4 linked regions of the Homo sapiens genome follow. The protein of the gene in region 1 purifies or fractionates together with the protein of each later gene. This does not show direct contact. Each region holds a gene or a part of one and is shown on either strand. Other genes may lie near its edges.

The links. The genes of interacting proteins can lie anywhere in the genome.
Region 2: the proteins of CEP78 (region 1) and RNF10 purify together in Homo sapiens (co-immunoprecipitation; one large-scale study listed by IntAct). This does not show direct contact.
Region 3: the proteins of CEP78 (region 1) and LRRTM4 purify together in Homo sapiens (co-immunoprecipitation; one large-scale study listed by IntAct). This does not show direct contact.
Region 4: the proteins of CEP78 (region 1) and CEP350 purify together in Homo sapiens (affinity purification with western blotting; one study listed by BioGRID). This does not show direct contact.

The regions. Positions count from the first base shown.
Region 1 is NC_000009.12:78,277,133-78,280,190, reverse strand, and holds the end of CEP78 (centrosomal protein of 78 kDa), read right to left. Parts: 3' UTR 501-3,058; downstream 1-500. UniProt on the Homo sapiens protein: Centriole wall protein that localizes to mature centrioles and regulates centriole and cilia biogenesis. Involved in centrosome duplication: required for efficient PLK4 centrosomal localization and PLK4-induced overduplication of centrioles.
Region 2 is NC_000012.12:120,540,856-120,544,355, reverse strand, and holds part of RNF10 (E3 ubiquitin-protein ligase RNF10), read right to left. Parts: intron 1-3,500. UniProt on the Homo sapiens protein: E3 ubiquitin-protein ligase that catalyzes monoubiquitination of 40S ribosomal proteins RPS2/us5 and RPS3/us3 in response to ribosome stalling.
Region 3 is NC_000002.12:77,512,377-77,515,876, reverse strand, and holds part of LRRTM4 (leucine-rich repeat transmembrane neuronal protein 4 isoform a precursor), read left to right. Parts: intron 1-3,500. UniProt on the Homo sapiens protein: May play a role in the development and maintenance of the vertebrate nervous system. Exhibits strong synaptogenic activity, restricted to excitatory presynaptic differentiation.
Region 4 is NC_000001.11:179,961,310-179,964,809, reverse strand, and holds part of CEP350 (centrosome-associated protein 350), read right to left. Parts: intron 1-3,500. UniProt on the Homo sapiens protein: Plays an essential role in centriole growth by stabilizing a procentriolar seed composed of at least, SASS6 and CPAP. Required for anchoring microtubules to the centrosomes and for the integrity of the microtubule network.

The DNA.
Region 1 (3,058 bases):
TATACCAACTAAATTGGAATTGGAAAAGAGAGCAACTGTAGAAAGTGATATAAGCCTAGGTGTCCCTAAAGAAGAGAAAATGAATACCATTTTTTTTTTTTTTTTGAGACAGAGTCTCGCTGTCACCCAGGCTGGAGTGCAGTGGCATGATCTCGGCTCACTGCAAGCTCTGCCTCCCGGGTTCACGCCATTCTCCTGCCTCAGCCTCCCGAGTAGCTGGGATTACAGGCGCCCGCCACCACGCCCGGCTAATTTTTTTGTATTTTTAGCAGAGACGGGTTTTCGCCGTGTTAGCCAGGATGGTCTCAATCTCCGGACCTCGTGATCTGCCCGCCTCGGCCTCCCAAAGTGCTGGGATTACAGGCGTGAGCCACCGCGCCCAGCCAATGAATACCATGCCTCACTTGCCGTTCCAGCCAGGCATCACAAAAACGGCCTGCAGTTTACTTGACTGTGAGCAGCAGTGTGGACCTGGGTAGAACTCACTCCTGCAGCCTCTCTGATACATAGTTCTGTTCTTTTATTATAGTTGGTGACAATAAATATTTGTGGAATAATATTTGTGTGGGAAAGATGCAAAGGCCACATGGTGAAGGAAGAAAACAGGTTTGGAAGTCAACAAATCCTGCTTTTGCCTTGTGCTACTTGAAGCCCTCAACCAAGTGAATCAATACCTCTCAGGCCTCATTCCTTCTTCTTTAAAATAATAACACCTTTTACTCCTTGTAGGTTTGCAATATTTGGAATAATATACAAAAGTGTCTCCTATCTGGTTACAATAAGGAACTCAATTCTTAGGTAAGATTTAGGTGAAGTTTGGCTTTGGTATAAAGAAATTAGAGCTGGTTATTTGGCAAACTGATTTTAGTGTTTTCAAACTCTACTCAAATTTTATCATTTAAGCTAGGATTATCTAGCTTTCAAGATTTTGTGGAGTTTTCTTGTTTTCTTAAGGAGATAAAAGCCGCCTTCACATTTCAAGGACTTTGAGGACCATCTTTCTAACACATTAAATAAACCAACTAATCTTCACTGGTCTCTCTGGAACAAGCTAATTATTATTTAATCTATAAGTGGGTCCTTATCTATTTCTAAACTACCAAGGTTGCCTTTTTTTTTTTTTTCAGTTCACAGTGGTTTAAAATGTACAAACTGTACTAAGAGAACTCGGGCATTCTCTGAGCCCTTTCAGCCCCTATCACTCACTATGTGCCTTTGTGAGCAGCCAGCCATACCTTCTGAGCACCTCAGTCACAGGGCAAAGTCTTCTTATTTTTTAACTTTTTGACCAAATTATATGTGAAAATTCTCAGGTAGATGTATCAGTTTGAAAACTCAGGTTTTCAGTGTCACAAAAGGGTTCTGAAAAGGGAAATCTAAAGAAAATTACCAGAAGACTATAGAGAGTTAAAGAGCTCAAGGAAGGTAGGCTTTGGAAGTAATTTGCAAATGCAGAAATGACTTTTAGCCATAAAATAAAACAAATGTGGGAAAGACTTGCATTGCCCCACGAGTAGCAGTTTTGTCAGGGGTAAACAGAGCAGATGTTTGAAACACTCTAGCCAGTGTTTCCAAACAGTAGGACATTACCCATTAGTGGATTGTGAAACATACTTCGTGAGTTGCCAACATAATTTTCTTTAAAGGCAAGGAATAGAACAGAACATGAATTAGTCACTAGAAGTACAATCAGAGTTGTTTGATGCAATTTTCCATTAATTATACGTGCACACAAGGAAGGTGGGGCCAGGACTACTACTTTTAACTTTGCAGAAAGCTTCATTTTTACTGTGGGTTGTGGTTAAGTTAAAAACATTTGACTATGCCATGTAGGCGACTCCAACACTTCAGGAATACAAAGCTCTGAAAAGAGGTTATGTAGCAAAGCTCATTTTCATTCACATTGATAATAGGTCAGACACATTTTTGAAGAAAAAAATGGACAGAGCGTAAAGGATAACAGAGTACACATTTTCATTTTCTATGATGAAAAGGAATTTTAAAAATTGTCTGTTGTACATAAAAACTTTTTTTTTAAACCAAACAACCTAGAATTAAATGGAGTAAAATGTGAGAAGCCCCCCTTTTTTCCTCCTTCAGCAGACAAAACCGCTGTCAATAGCTTGATATGTGTTATCACAGACTCTTTTCTAGGGTGCACACACGCATATATGCTACGTATAGGTAAACAAGTTTTAACTATACAAATGTAAACAGGAGTGCGTGGTTACTGTGCAACTTCTTCGTCCTGTCAATGTCTTAGAAATATTTTCATGTCCACACTAGAGAGCTATTGTCTTTATCTGCTGCAGAGTGTTATATGTCAGAAATTGGTATGTACTAATTCAACAATTTCTGCATTTCTGTACATTTATGCTGTTTCTAGTTTTTTATTATCTCAAAAAACACTTCACACAGTCTTGTATCTGACTCTTTGGGCACTTGTGTGAATATTTCTTCAGGCTGGATGCCTAAAATTAGTCATTAGATCAAAGGCTGGAGACATTTCACATGTTGATACACACTGTCAAACTGTCCATCCAAAAGCTGTATCAATTTCTACAATGACTGAGAATACTCCTTTCCTCACATTATCTCCAGCACTATCACCAATCTTTAATAATCTGCCATTTCAATGTATTGAAAAATAGTATCTCATTTTAACTTTAATTTTCCTGATTGCTTACGAGGTTGAAAGTTTATGTTTATAGTCTGTATTTCTTATTTATAAAATATTTTTATAGCCTTTGTCCAATTTTTGTTGTTTGTAGGTGCTCTTTATATTATCTTAAATCTTCTGTTCTATTACATGTATTTTCCCACTCCTTTATTTATGAAATCTAATTTTATCAAAGTTTTGTAAAAAGTGAAAGGTTTTACTTTTTAAAAATGTAGTCAAATCTATCTTTTTTTTCATGGCTACTGGGTTTTGTGTCTTGGTTGGGAATGCCTTTCTTACACATTTATTACAATTTTTTTCCAGTATTTTCTTCTAGTTATTTTTAATTTCCATGTTTAATTCATCTTGATTTTTTTCATCCATGATATGAAATAAGAA
Region 2 (3,500 bases), on another chromosome or scaffold:
TAGAGTTGGGGTCTCACTTTGTTACCCTGATTGGTTTCCAACTCCTGGACTCAAGCAATCCTGCCTCGGCCTTCCAAACTGTTAGGATTAAAGGCATGAACCACCATGCCTGGTTTATCTTTTTTTTGTTTTTAACAGTCTCACTCTATTGCCCAGGCTGGAGTGCAGTGGCGCAATCTCGGCTCACTGCAACCTCTACCTCCCGGGTTCCAGCAATTCTCCTGCCTTGGCCTCCCAAGTAGCTAGGATTACAGGCATGAGCCACCACGCCTGGCTAATTCTGTATTTTTAGTAGAGATGGAGTTTCGCCACATTGGCCAGGCTGGTCTCGACCTCCTGACCTCAAGTGATCCACTCACCTCGGCCTCCCAAAGTACTGGGATTACAGGCATGAGCCACCATGCCCAGCATGTTTTATTCCCCCAGGGTGGAAAGCAGTGGTGCCATCATAGCACACTGCAGCCTCAACCTCAGCTTAGCATCTTTCCAACTCAGCCTCCCAGCTAGGACTGCAGGTGTGCACCACCACACCCAGCTAATTTTTAAATTTATTTTGAGACAGGATCTTACTTTTGTCACCCAGGCTGGAGTGCAGTGGCATGATCTCGGCTTACTGCAGCCTCCAACTCCTGGGTTCAAGCAATCCTCCTGCCTCAGCCCCCCAAGTAGCTGGGACTCCAGGCATATACACCATTCTTGGCTTAATTTATATTTTTGATATAGACGGGGTTTTGCCATGTTGCCCAGATGGGTCTCAAACTCCTGAGCTCAAGCGATCCACCAGCCTCAGCCTCCCAAAGTGCTGGGATTACAGGCGTGAGCCATCAGGCCCGACCTAATTTTTAAATTTTTTTGTGCAGACGGGGGTCTCACTATGTTGCCCAGGCTGGTCTCAAACTCCTGGGCTCAGGCGATCCTCCAGGCTCAGGTGATCTTCCCACCTCAGCCTCCCAAAGTGCTGGGATTATAAGCATGAGCCATGGGGTCTGGCCCCACTTTTATCTTATTACAATGATTCTCAATCTTGCCAGTTCATAGGAATCACACAGATGAGCTTTTACGGAATTCCTATGCTCAGGCCTCACCCTCTAAGATTCTGATATAACTATACTAAAGTACCTGTCTGCAGACCTGTAATATTATCTGAGTAATTTTTTTTAAACTTAGAAAAAATTATTTCTTGGTAAGTACAATCACCAGCTTTTTATAGCAGGCTAAATAAATTCAAGGTTAAACAATGCCTCAGAAAGAAGAAAATGTAAGTTAATAAATCAGAGACCAAATTTTGAAAGCAACCACTTCACGCCCATAGTCTGTCAACCTCACTGTATAAATGAGATGTCATTCTCTCCAAACCTGACCACCTAAAACCTGGGAGTCAATCTAAACCATGTGAAATGGCAGCAATGTAAACAGAACAGTCACAGAAACAGGCTAGGTTCACTCCTACCAGTTACCCTTAAATCCTGCTTACGGACAGTGACCCTTACCTTAGTTACAATTTAAGGCCAGGCATGGTGGCTCCCTGTAATCCCAGCACTTTGGGAGGCCAAGGCAGGCAGATCACATGAGGCCAGAAGTTCGAGACCAGCCTGGCCAACATGGTGAAGCCCCATCTTTACTAGAAATACAAACATTAGCCAGGTGTGGTGCCACACGCCTGTAATCCCAGCTACTTGGGAGGCTAAGGCATGAGAATCATTTGAACCCGGGAGGCAGAGGTTGCAGTGAGCTGAAATCACGCCACTGCACTCCAGCCTGGGCAGCAGAGTGAGACTCTGTCTCAAAAAACAAATAAATAAAGTTAGAACTTAAAAACTAAACTTTTACCTATTACTTCAGTTAGCAACAGTTAGTGTCAAACATGGCACTAGTAGTAACAATTAGAAAGCAAAGTTTCAGCGCTGGACTTGGTGGCTCATGCCGGTTGTCTCAACACTTTGGGAAGCCAAAGCAAGAGGATCACTTGAGTCCACGAGTTTGCGACCAGCCTGGGCAACATAGCAAGACCCCATCTCTACAAAAAATTTAAAAATTAGCCCAATGTGGTGGCACACACCTGCAGTCCTAGCTGAGAGGCTGAGTTGGAAGGATTGCTTAAGCCAAGGTTGAGGCTGCGGTGTGCTATGATGGCACCACTGCTCTCCACCCTGGGCTACAGAGTGAGCCTCTGTCTCAAAAAAAGAAAAAGGCCAGGCACGGTGGCTCACGCCTGTAATCCCAGCACTTTGGGATGCTGAGGCGGGTGGATCACGAGGTCAGGAGATCAAGACCATCCTGGCTAACATGGTGAAACCCTGTCTCTACTAAAAATACAAAAAATTAACCAGGCGTGGTGGCGGGAGCCTGTAGTCCCAGCTACTCAGGAGGCTGAGGCAGGAGAACGGTGTGAACCTGGGAGGCGGGGCTTGCAGTGAGCCAAGATTGCACCACTGCACTCCAGCCTGGGAGACACAGTGAGACTCCATCTCAAAAAAAAAAAGAAAAAGATAAACCAGGCACAGTGGTTCAAGAGTTCAAGGATCTCTTAAGCCAAGGAGTTCAAGGTTTCAGTCAGTTATGTTTGCACCACTGCATGCCAGCCTAAGTGACAGAGCGAGAGCTTGTCTCTAAAAAAAAAAAAGCCAGGCACGATGGCTCATGCTTGTAATCCCAGCACTTTGGGAGGCCAAGGCAGGTGGATCACGAAGTCAGGAGATAGAGACCATCCTGGCTAACATGGTGAAACCCCATCTCTACTAAAAATACAAAAAATTAGCCAGGCTTGGTGGCGGGCGCCTGTAGTCCCAGCTGCTCGGGAGGCTGAGGCAGGAGAATGGCGTGAACCCGGGAGGCGGGGCTAGCAGTGAGCGGAGATCGTGCCACTGCATTCCAGTCTGGGCGACAGAGTGAGACTCCGTCTCAAAAAAAAAAAAAAAGGAAAACTCAGGGGATGCAGAACCCCAGCTAACTCAGCCACATTCTCTTGCTTTGCTTTCCTTAACTCCATTTCACATCACCTCAAGCAAAGGAGATTCTACGAGGATAGGTATATAAAGAAAACACATATCCTCCAACCTCATTATCCAAGACTGTTTCAGATGATCCTGGACCCTACCTGTTTGACCCTAACTGCTGCTTTCAAGATGCACCTCACGGTTTGCATAGATTTAGGTAAAGCCAGATTCTACATGGCAAGGGCTTATTAAGAAAGTAAAATGGCCAGACACGGTGGCTCATGCCTATAATCCCAATGCTTTGGGAGGCCGAGGCGGGCGGATCACCTGAGGTCGGGAGTTCGAGACCAGCCTGACCAACATGGAGAAACCCCGTCTCTACTAAAAATACAAAAAATTAGCTGGGCATGGTGGCGCATGCCTGTAATCCCAGCTACTCCGGGGGCTGAGGCAGGAGAATAGCTTGAACCCGGGAGGTGGAGGTTGCGGCAAGGCCGAGACTGCACCACTACACTCCAGCCTGGGCAACAAGAGCAAAACTCTGTCTCAAAAAAAAAAAAAAAA
Region 3 (3,500 bases), on another chromosome or scaffold:
ATTGTTATAGGGAAAACCCTAATTACTTCTTACTTCTTTGTCACTCGGAGTAAAATTTCTCCTGTTGAGAAATATTCCTTTGGACAAAATCTCTCTACAAAATAGAGCCAAGAGAGGGCAGCGATTTGCCCAACTTTACAATGTTTTTGGAATAGTATAAGTATGCTGAGTTTTAGCTTGGCATTGTTTTCATAAGTCTCATATATCACTAGTTTAGCAGAGAACCATTAATATATTTATAAGACATTTTTGTGAGGTAGGTTTTTTTAAAAAAAAATTAAAAACACCAAACTCTACCCAATAAAGCCATAAATATTTAATTGGAAAACTTAGCACCAAATGCTAATTTTCTAAGATAGTGCCTTGAAGAAATAAAAATTGCATTAAATTAAAAACTCTACTTTCCACCTAACTTTATATTCAGTTACCATGACCTAAATATGGTTACAATATCCATTTTGCTTGTTTCTTTTAAAAGGATTTTTTAAATTGAGATTATTAGATTGGCGTTTGTGAGCCTCCACACAAATATAGCATGCAATTTTCAAATTAAATAATTTTCTCTATGTTTTGCAAGTTTTAATTCTGAAAAGTCTGTGTGCACATACCATTCTGATAAAATGAGGGATAATATTTTAATAATTTGGGCAGTAAAAATTGTTCATATCTATAAAAGAGAAATAGAGTAGATAGTTATGAGTAATTAATATGAATTATAGCACAAGTATAAGGGATACATACATCCTAATCATACTTTGAGTGGATCAGTGTGCTTGGTTGAACTGAATCATTCACTTAGTACATACATCCTCAGTATGTACTCAGAAAAGAGAATTTAAAGCCAAAAGGATACAGCTTTTCCTAAAACAGTAAGGTGTTACTATATAGACAGGAAATGCAAATATTTACTTTGAAAAATAGCTTGTGAAGCTTGGCATAATGTTATCTCATTAAAAAATATGACCAGGGATATAAAGTTGCTTCATTCTGTATATCAATTTTTTCCTTCGAAATTGTAAAGAACAAAGTTTTGAATATCTAGTTCTTCTAGGATTTGTTTTATCAACTGAAAGTAGCAGCGGCCTTTATATATTAGCCAATGTGAACAAAGGACAAGAAAGAATATTTGTAGTTTGTTTTGTACATTAAAAAAAGTTAAATTGGTGAAAATTTAAAATGAATGAATGTAGTCTCTAAAGAGACTCTCCATCCAAAGTGTTTCAATAGTTAAGTAATTGAAATATAAAGTTTAATGATCCTATAGTGCTAACAGTGCTGCTATTAGGAAAATGGCAGTAAAGGTGACAATATAGGTGTATATTTTCCAAATATTTAATATTTTCATTACTTTCTTCAAAATTGAGCAAAATTTTAAAAATATACTGGTTTTCAGTTCAGGTTATATAATTTCTTTGACTGTTATGCAGTGGGTGGTATAAACCATTTCTAACAACTTTTATTTATGGACTATGTTAGGTCAGGTTCAAACAACTGGTATAAAGTAGACCACTTAACTTCTTTTCACACTTTAGATATTGATATTCTTCAGTGTGCTAAGTGAATTTCCAAGGACTACTAAGCATAATGTATATATAAAGAGGACTCTAAGGAAAGCAGACCCAGTTACCTTGAGTTTAATTAACAGTTTATCGACATACAGCTATAGAAAACAAACTTTATTTAGGTGGCTGACTACAACTGTGTCATGGTACAATGTTATGATTGAAACTGTATTTGTATATTTAAATAGGATGTGTGTGTGTTTGTATGTGAGTTTATCCATGTATGTATGTCTGTATATATATATGTGTGTGTGTGTTTGTGTGTGTGCATATAAAGACAAAATAGAAACATATTTCCATCAGAATTAATGTCCATCAAAATTAATTAAATTTTTTTACGACAATTTAAATTATTAGTAACAAATATTTGTTAAAATCACCAAGATTTTTTAGTTAGGAATATGGCCCTTAAGGTAAATGTATTATCATATCTGAAAAATTATAAGTATCGTCAGGTGCAGTGGCTCATGCCTGTAATCCCAGTAATTTGGGAGGCCAAAGTGGGTGGATTACTTGAGGTCAAGAGTTTTAGACCAGTCTGACCAACATGGTGAAAACCTGTCTCTACTGAAAATACAAAAATTAGCAGGTCATGGTGGCGCACAGCTATAATCTCAGTTACTAGGGAGGTTGAGGCAAGAGAATCGCTTGAACCCAGGAGGCAGAGGTTGCAGTGCAAGATTGCACTACTGCAGTCCTGCCTGGGCAACAGAACAAGACTCATCTCAAAATAAACAAATAAAATATAAATTATAAGTATCTTACATCTATGTAGTCTAAAATTCTTTTTCAAAAAACAAAATTTAACATAGTCAAGTCTGTATTTGTACTACATATTGCCATTTTTTGTGTTGCTTTAGACTTGTCACTTCGTTTCTCTGTGACGCATCTCTCAAACGAGTGACTCAGCTAGCACAGTGTTTCCCAACACAAAGCAATTCTCGGATTAGTATAAAGTTTGTAAAGTCTCTATGGTCATTCTCAGAACTGAAAAAGCAGGATGAGCTGTGGAGAAAAAGACTGAGCTACTTACATTCATTTGTCAATGAGAAAAGAAAGAACTTCTTCAGTTACTAAAAACTGGGGTGCCCAGGTGAGCAGCCATACAATTTCTTTATGCTTGAGGGGAAAATATGTAACTCACGCATACACATGTGTGAGCACATGAGTGCACACTCCCACACACGTATATGTCTTTGAAATTCTGCTAAGTAACTAGATATTTTGAAAGCACTTAAAACTATGTCTGCTTTTTAAAAAATCGATTGTCTGAATTAGGTCCAATTAAAATCTATTTGTGAATAGAGTTTTCATTAGAATTCACAAATGGTAGTGGTGAAGAGTGACAGCTGCCAAAAAAAGACCGACATAGCTAATTTAGGAAAGATTTTAAACTGACAATAAATGGCCCTTTTCTTTTTCTAGAATTAGCTGGTATTAGCATCTCACGGACAAGGTTTTCATAAATGATTGCTCTTGAAGACTCCCAGCTGAGAAGTCTGTGGTCTTAGGAATGTGTAGCTTTTGACACACCCCAATAATATCCACAGGATACCAGAATTTCCTTCTTGAGACTTTTCTGTGTTTATAAAATGTAATCATCCCTAGTTCTTCTCAGGAATTGCATTTAGAGATAGTTTTATGCTTTAGGAGTTGCTCAGTAATATTTTCACTGGGGACTTGGTGACTCATCTGAATTTTCATGTCTCTAGAGTTTCATGATTCACTAAATCAAAGTGAAGCAGAAGCAACCTGTATATCACTAGACACTGAGAGTTTTGAAAAACCAGTATGTCTTTTGATCAGTGAAAAGCATGAAGTGATGTTGAATACATTTTAAAAATTAAAATTGCTTTTTATAGTACCAGAAGAACCATCATTCATTGAGTCAGTTTAATAAAATCTCAATATTCATGAAAGGAAAAAGAAATTACAGGG
Region 4 (3,500 bases), on another chromosome or scaffold:
AAGCAAGATAGATAAACCTCTAAGTAAATTAAAAAAAAAAAAAGTGAGAAGATCCTAAGAAGCATAATCAGAAATGACAAAGGTGACAGAACTCATACTACAAAAATACAAAAGAGCCTCAGAGACTACTATGAACATCTTTATGTGCACAAACTAGAAAAACCAGAGGAAATGGATAAATTCTTGGAAACACACAACCTCCCAAGATTGAACAAGGAAGAAACTGAAATCCTGAACAGATCATAACAATTTACAAAATTGAATCAGTTATAAAAACAAATCTACAAACCAAAAAAAGACCAGGATCAGATGCATTCACAGCCAAATTATACCAGACAAACAAAGAAGAGCTGGTATCAATCTTACTGAAACTACTCCAAAAAATCAAGATCACACTGAATGGACAAAAGTTAGAAGCATCCCCTCTATGAACTGAAAAAAGACAAGGATGTGCACTCTTACGACTCCTATTCAACATAATACTTTCCATCCTACCCATAGGAATCAGGCAGAAAATTAAAATTTAAAAAAAGGCATCCATATAGGAAAAGAGAAACTCAAATTATCTCTGTTCAACCCTAAGGAGTCCTTCAAAAAACTCCTAGACCTAAGAAAAAGACTTCAGTAAAGTTTCAGGATGCAAAATCAACTTACAACAGTCAGTGGCATTTCTATATGCCAATAATGTTCAAGCTGAGAACCAAATCAAAAATGCAATCCCATCTATAATAGCCACATGAAAAATAAAATACCCAGGAATAAATTTAACCAGGGAGGTGAAAGATTTCTACAAGGAGAACTACAAAACACTGATGAAGGAAATAACAGATGACACAAACAAATGGAAAAACATTCCATGCTCATGGATTGGAAGAATCAAAATTTAAATGACCATACTGCCCAAAACAATCCAAAAATTCTATTCCCATCAAATTAGCAACATCATTTTTCACAAATTAGAAAAAACAATTCTAAAATTCATATGGAACCAAAAAAGAGCCTGAATAGCCAAGCAAAAAGAACACAGCAGGAGGCATCACATTACCCAACTTCAAACTATACTACAAGGATATCCTAACCAAAACAGCATGTTACCAATACAAAAACAGACATCTGTATCAATGTAACAGAATAGAGAACCCAGAAATAAAGCCATACACCTATAACCAGTTGATCTTGAACAAAGCTGACAAAAGCAAAAATGGGGAAAGGACACCTATTCAATAAACAGTGCTAAAAAGAAAAAAAAACCCAAAAAACACACAAAAAAACTGGCTAGCATGTGCAGAAGAATGAAACTGGACCCCCTACCTTTCACCACATACAAAAATTAACTCAAGACGTATTAAAGACTTAAACATAAAACCTCAAACTATAAAGATCCTATTTTAAAAAACCTAGGAAAAACTCTTCTGCACATGGGCCTAGGCAAAGAATTTATGACTAAAACCTCAAAGGCAAATGCAACAAAACAAAAATTCATAAACAAGATTTAATTAAACTAAAAAGCTTCTACATAGCAAAAGAATCAACAAAGTAAAGAGGTAACCTAAAGAATGGGAAAAAAATATTTGCAAACTGTACATCTGACAAAGGACTAGGATCCAGAATCTACAAGGAATCTCAAACAAATGAACAAGAAAAAAAAAATAACTCCATTAAAAAGTGAGCAATGGACATAAACGGATACTTCTCAAAAGAAGACATACAAGTGGCCAACAAACATATGAAAAAAATGCTCAGAATCACTAATCATCAATAAAATACAAATTAAAACCACACTGATACCATCTCACACCAGTCAGAATTGCTATTATTAAAGAGTTAAAAAATAACAGATGACAAGGATGCAGAGAAAAGGGAGTATCATACACTGCTGGTGGGAATGTAAATTAGTTCAACCCCTGTGGAAAAGAGTAGAGGGATTTCTCAAAGAACTTAGAACTATCATTAGACCCAGCATTCCCACTACTGGGTATCTATCCAAAGGAAAAGAAATCATTCTATCAAAAAGACACTGCACTAGTATGTTTATCACAGCACTATTCACAACAGCAAAGTCATTGAATCAAACTAAGTACCTATCAACAGTAGATCAGATAGGCCGGGAGCAGTGGCTCATGCCTGTAATCCCAGCACTTTGGGAGGCCGAGGTGGGCAGATCATGAGGTCAGGAGTTTGAGACCAGCCTGACCAACATAGTGAAACTCCATCTCTACTAAAAATACAAAAATCAGCCAGGCATGGTGGCATGTGCCTGTAATCCCAGCTACTCAGGAGGCTGAGGCAGGAGAATTGCTTGGACCCGGGAGGCGGAAGTTGCAGTGAGCCAAGATCACGTCACTGCGCTCCAGCGTGAGCAACAGAGCGAGACTCTGCCTCAAAAACAAAACAAAACAAACAAACAAACAAAAAACAGTAGATTAGATAAAGAAAATGTGGTACATATACACCGTGGAATACTACGTAGCCATAAAAATGAATGAAATCATGTCCTTTGGAGCAACATGGATGCAGCTGGAGGTCATTATCCTAAGCAAATTAATGCAGAAACAGAAAATCAAATATCACACCTTCTCTCACTTGTAAGTGGGGTCTAAACAATAGGTAAATATAGACATAAAGATGAAAATAAGATACTGTGGATTCCAAAAGTGGGAAAGGGCCGGGCGTGGTGGCTCACGCCTGTAATACCAGTACCTTGGGAGGCCAAGGTGGGCAGACCACTTGAGCTCACAAGTTTGAGACCAGCCTGGCCAACATGGTGAAACCCCATCTCTCCTAAAAATACAAAAAATTAGCCGGGCATGGTGGCTCGTACCTGTAGTCCAAGCTACTCGGGAGGCTGAGGCAGGAGAATCGCTTAAACCTGGGAGGCAGAAGTTGCAATGAGCCTAGATCAAGCCACTGCACTCCAGCCTGGGTGACAGAGACTCCATCTCAAAAAAAAAGGTGGGAAGTGACAGGTAAGGGGTAAAGGTTGAAAAACAACCTACTGGGTACTATGTTCGCTATTTCAGTGATAGGTTCAACAGAAGCCCAAACCTCAGCATGATGCAATATACCCATGTAACGAACCTGCACGTGTATCCCCCACAACCCAAATCTAAAATAAAAGCTAAAGCGTAGTCTAACTTCATTTATAACTAACCAGAGAAACAAACCGTATTAAAGCTGGACGTTAGGAGTCAACCAGCATCATATTATCAAGTGTGTAGTCATGACCCGTTAGTAGATTAAAACAAAACAAAACAATATCGTGGATTGGAGCTAGCATTTTTTTAATGGAACTAAATAGGATTGATTTGCAAATATCAAGTGTATTGAAGGTAGTGAGCGCTTTATTTTATTTTATTTTATTTTTGAGACACAGTCTCTCTGTCGCCCTGGCTGGAGTGCAGTGACGCGATCTCGGCTCACTGCAACCTACACCTCCCAGGTTCAAGTGATTCTCCTGCCTTAGCCTACTGAGTAACTGGGATTACAGGTGCGCGCCACCA